Linked DNA regions of Homo sapiens: region 2 is linked to region 1. Evidence: fine-mapped expression QTL. A gene starts in region 1. The other region holds a variant in brackets. All regions are shown on one strand. Distances are from middle to middle. Region 1 holds the start of PTPN12 (protein tyrosine phosphatase non-receptor type 12). Region 2 has its middle 29 kb from the start of PTPN12.

Evidence for each region. PIP is the estimated chance that this variant, and not a neighbour inherited with it, causes the effect.
Region 2: its variant is fine-mapped to the expression of PTPN12 in subcutaneous fat (TwinsUK, PIP 0.95).

What each region holds. Positions count from the first base shown.
Region 1 is chr7:77,535,718-77,538,620 of GRCh38, reverse strand. PTPN12 (protein tyrosine phosphatase non-receptor type 12) reads right to left here and starts at 1,326. Exons shown (of 18, transcript NM_002835.4): 1 at 976-1,326. The coding sequence starts at 1,074. It overlaps LOC124901681 (a long non-coding RNA gene), which reads left to right and starts at 1,672. Exons shown (of 3, transcript XR_007060395.1): 1 at 1,672-2,250; 2 at 2,340-2,903. RefSeq lists silencers at 787-836, 977-1,186, 1,437-1,736 and enhancers at 1,807-2,026, 2,197-2,246.
Region 2 is chr7:77,506,630-77,509,532 of GRCh38, reverse strand. No RefSeq gene overlaps it. Among named protein-coding and RNA genes, the nearest start is that of PTPN12, 29 kb to the left of the region's middle. RefSeq lists an enhancer at 1-847. The variant CA/A (reference allele first, on the strand shown) is at 1,804.

The DNA of each region.
Region 1 (2,903 bases):
ATGAACAAGACTTTTAACCTTCACCTCCTCTCAAGACTGCCTGCACAAGCAGAGGGCGGAAAGTAGGGGGTGGCGGAGGCGGGGGGGCGCTGGGAAGGTTATCTCCCAGTTCAGGGCTTCGGCCCGTAGCGTCGCCTCCGCCCCACCAGGACTATTGTTCCCAAGTTCCCCACCCCCACCCCGGATAGGAAGTGATAGTCACATCCCCTCCGCCTTCGGCAATATCCCCTGGGGAGTCCGAAGTCGGCTGGCTTCCTTCAGGATAATTCCCCCACCCACACTTATCCCCTGAACCTATAGTCACACGGACCCCAAGACCACCTCAAACCTGGGCCTCAGGAGAGGAGAAGCGGGACGCGGGTAAATGGAAATTAGGTAAACCCATGAGATTCCTTATGGGCAATCCTTTCCCAAGCGTTGGAGATCATGACTGCGACCCCAGAAACGGCCTAAGTCCTACCCTGCCCGCTTTGAGACCAGCTAGAGCAAAGGGATCCCAGGAGTTAGTGCCAACCTCAATACCCCCGTTCCTCTGTCAGCCACGATCTGCACTCCTCCCGGTCACAGCCAGATACCTTGCCTCGACCCTCCTGGGAGGAGCGAACTGCGCGGGGAGGTGTGGAAACGCGAGCCCCCCCCCCCGGCCTGCACCTCACTTGCCTACGGCTCCCGGCCCGGTAAACAATAGGTGGTCGCGAGCCACGGTGCAGGCTGCGGGCTCGGCCGCGCGGCCGCTCCCTTCGCGTCCCGGGAACCCGCGCGGGGGTCGCGAACATGGGAGAAGAAAGGAGGCCACGGGGGGAGGCGCTCTCGCCTCCCGCTGGCCTCCGAGACCACCCGGCTCACCCGGCTGGTGCGCGCCCCCTCCGCCCCTCTCCTCACAGAGGTACACAAAGCACTGGCGGCCCGGCCGGGAGAGGCGGCGATGGGCTCCGGCGCCGGCAAGAAAACGCGACAGCGAGGGGAGAGACTCACCATGAAGTCCCGGGCGAAGTTGTCCTCCCCATTGTGGTCAGGACTCTTCATGGCCTGGACCCTCTGGATGAATTTCCTCAGGATCTCCACTTGCTCCATCCTCCCGCGTCCCCCCGGCTGCGGTCGCTGGCCCCCCCGCCGCCCGCCCGCCCGGCACAGAGCCCGCTCCGTCTTCCCCAGCTCGTTCCCCCAGCACGTCCCTCCCTCCCGACCCCGCCAAGCCCCGCGGCTCCCTCCTCCTCCCCACCGCCCTAGGCGGCGGCTGCGGCGGCACCGGCTGGGCTCCCGACACCACAACTTCCAGGAGCAGCCGCCGCTCTCCCACAGTACCAGGCGAGCCGCTGCGCTAGCGCCAACCCCAACCCCCAGCTTGCTCCATCCTCCTTCCCCGCCCTCCTCCTCCGTCGGAGACGCCGCCGCCGCCGCCGCCGCCGCCGCCGCCTCAGGAACACAGCTAGCTCTCCGCTCGCCCTGCCCCCCCTTCCCGGTTCCTCCTCCCCCCCACCCCCCGCCAGCAGCCGCAGCCGCAGCCGCAGCCGCCTCTCCCCACGGGCGCGTCCCCGCCGCCACCCAGATGCGCGGCCTCGCGCTGCGGCTCCGCCCCAAGCGCTGCGCCCGCAGATGCATCCCCGCCCGCCTCCCGGCCACGCCCCCAAGCCCGCCCCGCCGGCCCCAGCCCCGCTTGGAGTGGCTGGAAGGCACTTCAGCGGGCGGCCTGGAGACCTGACTCCATTTCCGGGGCGTGGCCCCGCCCGGGGTGCTCAGAGGTCGGAGTATCGCTGGGAGGAGAGTTGGTTCATTTGGAGGAGGGAATGCGACTCTGAGCGGGCCAAGCCCTAGTGGGTCAGAGTAGGATTCTGATGGAATTTGCGGTCTCACCGCCTACTAGGGAGGAAAAGCAGTTTTCAGGAGTCCCGCACCGCCGCCAGCCGTGGGCTGGGACTACAAGTCACGGTCTGTGGAGTCCAGGAGTGGGGGCGGGCGGGAGGCAGGCTGGGAGCTGTAGTAGTGTCACCGCCACGTTCGCAGCAGGTAGATGCTCATCTTGCTAACGGATTGGTGAGAGTGGACAGCAATTAGGCTTTGGCACCTTGGAGCGTGGCTCCAGCTAAGGGAAGCGAAACGCTTCCTGGGTGAGAGGACTTTTATTCTTTGCTCATCCTCTTAAACCTGGCGAGTGAGCGCCTGAGGTTCGGAGTGCCTTCTTCACAGACGACGCGAATGTGGGGTCTTCGTGTTTGCCGAACTGAAGGGAATTTGCCTTCCTGCCTTTAGGTTCGCAGCAGTTCATAACTGAATAAGAGACTTTCCTCCATAGAATGGACTTTATAAATCTATTAATTTTTTTTTTTTTTTTTTTTTAGAGCTAAGGTCTTGCTCTATCTCCCATGCCAAAGTGCAGTGCTATGATCACGGCTCGCTGCAGCCTTGAACTCCTGGGCTCAAGGCATCCTCCTGCCTCACTACGTCACCAAGCCCAGCTAATACATTTTAAAAATTTATTATTTATTTATTTATTTATTTTTGGTAGAGAAGGGGGTCTCACCAGGTTGCCCAGGCTGATCTCGAATTCCTGTGCACTAGGGATCCTCAGCTTCCGAAAGTGTTGGGATTTTAGGCGTGAGCCACCGCGCCTAGCCTATAAATCTTTATTCATCTTTGTAAACTTCTATCAGAGAATATATTCTGGTCTAACTCATCATTTTACAAATAAAGCGACTTCCTGACATCCCCCAGCGTATTCTTAGCAGAGCCGTAACTAGAAGTTATTTTACTTTCACAACAGTGGCCTCTCACAATGTGACAGAACTGAAGGATTTGATCCATGAACTGACTTTCGTCATTTATACCCACAAACCTTTTTTTACAGAGCAGATTGGTCAGCGAATTTGGTTATAATAGGAAATATCAGTGGTAGAATACTTTCT
Region 2 (2,903 bases), 29 kb after region 1:
GCTGGCCGGGCTGAGGGGCTCCTCACTTCCCAGTAGGGGTGGGCGGGCAGAGGCGCCCCTCACCTCCCGGACGGGGCGGCTGGCCGGGCAGGGGGCTGACCCCCCCACCTCCCTCCCGGACGGCACGGCTGGCCAGGCGGGGGGCTGACCCCCCCACCTCCCTCCCGGATGGCACGGCTGGCCGGGCGGGGGCTGACCCCCCACCTCCCTCCCGGATGGGGCAGCTGGCCGGGCGGGGGGCTGACCCCCCCCACCTCCCTCCCGGACAGGGTGGCTGCCGGGCGGAGAGGCTCCTCACCTCCCAGACGGGGCGGCTGCCGGGCAGAGGGGCTCCTCACTTTTCAGACGGGGTGGTTGCCAGGCAGAGGGTCTCCTCACTTCTCAGACGGGGCGGCCGGGCAGAGACGCTCCTCACCTCCCAGACGGGGTCTCGGCCGGGCAGAGGCGCTCCTCACATCCCAGATGGGGCGGCGGGGCAGAGGCGCTCCCCACATCTCAGACGATGGGCGGCCGGGCAGAGACGCTCCTCACTTCCTAGATGTGATGGCGGCTGGGAAGAGGCGCTCCTCACTTCCTAGATGGGATGGCGGCCGGGCGGAGACGCTCCTCACTTTCCAGACTGGGCAGCCAGGCAGAGGGGCTCCTCACATCCCAGACGATGGGCGGCCAGGCAGAGACACTCCTCACTTCCCAGACGGGGTGGCGGCCGGGCAGAGGCTGCAATCTCGGCACTCTGGGAGGCCAAGGCAGGCGGCTGGGAGGTGTAGGTTGTAGTGAGCCGAGACCACGCCACTGCACTCCAGCCTGGGCACCATTGAGCACTGAGTGAACGAGACTCCCTCTGCAATCCCGGCACCTCGGGAGGCCAAGGCGGGCGGATCACTCGCGGTTAGGGGCTGGAGACCGGCCCGGCCAACACAGCGAAACCCCGTCTCCACCAAAACCAGTCAGGCGTGGCGGCGCGTGCCTGCAATCACAGGCACTCGGCAGGATCTTCTATCTGTCCAAACTGGGACCGAGTCCTCGGCCTCGGAGGCTCCACGCTCCCTCTCTCACAGCCCGCACCTCGGCGGTCTCTCGGAGGAGGGAGGAACCCGAGGTACCTGGTAGTCGTAGCTGAGGAACTTACAGGCTTGTTGACCATCTCACCATGGAAACTCGACCATTTTTTAATGGGGTTGTTTTTTTGTTTTGTTTTTGTTTTTGTTTTGAGACGGAGTCTCACTCTGTCGCCCAGGCTGGAGTGCAGTGGCGTGATCTCAGCTCATTGCAAGCTCCGCCTCCCAGGCTCACGCCATTCTCCTGCCTCAGCCTCCTGAGTAGCTGGGACTACAGGTGCCCGCCACCACGCCTGGCTAATTTTTTGTATTTTTAGTAGAGACGGGGTTTCACCAATGTTAGCCAGGATGGTCTTGATCTCCTGACCTCGTGATCCGCCTGCCTCAGCCTCCCAAAGTGCTGGGATTACAGGCGTGAGCCACTGTGCCTGGCCAGGGTTGATATTTTGTTTTTTTGTTTGAGATGGAGTCTTGCTCTTGTCACCCAGGCTGGAGTGCAGTGGTGTGATCTCTGCTCACTGCAACCTCTGCCTCCTGGGTTCAAGTGATTCTCCTGCCTCAGCCTCACGAGTAGCTGGGATTACAGGCACCTGCCACCATGCCTGGCTGAGTTTTCGATCTTTTGTAGAGACGGGGTTTCACCATGTTGGCCAGGCTAGTCTCAAACTTCTGACCTTAGGTAATTCGCCCATCTTGGCCTTTTCATTCTGTTTTGTAGAATGGAGCCTAACCCCGCCCCCCCCCC[CA/A]AATAAAAATAAAACAAATTTTCAATTACAATGAGCAATGCACAAAGATATTGAGGTACATAAGGAAGTCTGGCCCTGTAAGCAAGATTCAAAGGAAACAGCAGATATTAGAAACAGATCCACAGACTATAAAACAACTATGTATGTCTGTAATTAAAAAAATAAAAAGACAACTTGAAAATATCTTCAGGTAACAGAAAACTATCAAGGGATATAGCATATTGAAAACAGACATTTTGACCAAATTGAGTAAATTTAACTAGTTTGTTTTTTCTCATGTTTAAACTTATTAATTAAATTAATTATTTTAGTCTTTCTAGTGTCATGTTTTAAAACCTAAATCAATGTACTATGGCCAAAAGTGTTAATCTCAACAGCCGTGGAGAATATAAGTGTCATTACTGTTATTATCATCATATATTAGAAAAGTCACAGTATCTCAGCAAATAGTCATCATCAAGTCATAGTATTTTACTTACAATGATACAGATTCATGATGTCCTTCCATTTGTACAAAGGTAATTAGTTCTGACTCTTAAGTCATTTATCTGACAATCTGTCCAGCTTAAAGATATGAAACCAACCTTAAACCCACTGAAAAAAGAACTTACCACTAGATTCCTGTATCAGTCAGGAATAGCTTCAGCTGTGAGTAAAAAAAAAAAAAAAAAAAAAAACAAAAAACAATGGCTTAGTCTAGAGCTGAGGTGGCCTGGTACTCTTGTAGCTTCCATTCCCAAGGTCACCTCTTGTTTCAGCTGGGCTACTCCAGCCATCACAACCATATTCCAGTCTGTCTGAAGGAAGAAAAGAATAATCGGGGGCAAAGGACCCATCAGCTCTCTTATAAAGACGGTTTCCATGAACTGCCATACTTTGCTTACCTATAAGAAAGAGAAAAGCATGGCCAGGTACAGTGGCTCACCATGCTTATCCCAGCACTTTGGGAAGCCAAGGTGACTGGATCACTTGAACCCAGAAGTTCAAGGCCAGCCTGGGTAACATAGTGAAACCTTGTCTCTACAAAAAATATAAAAATTAGCCGGGTGTAGTGGCACACACCTGTAGTCCCAGCTACTAGGGAGGCTGAAGTATGAGG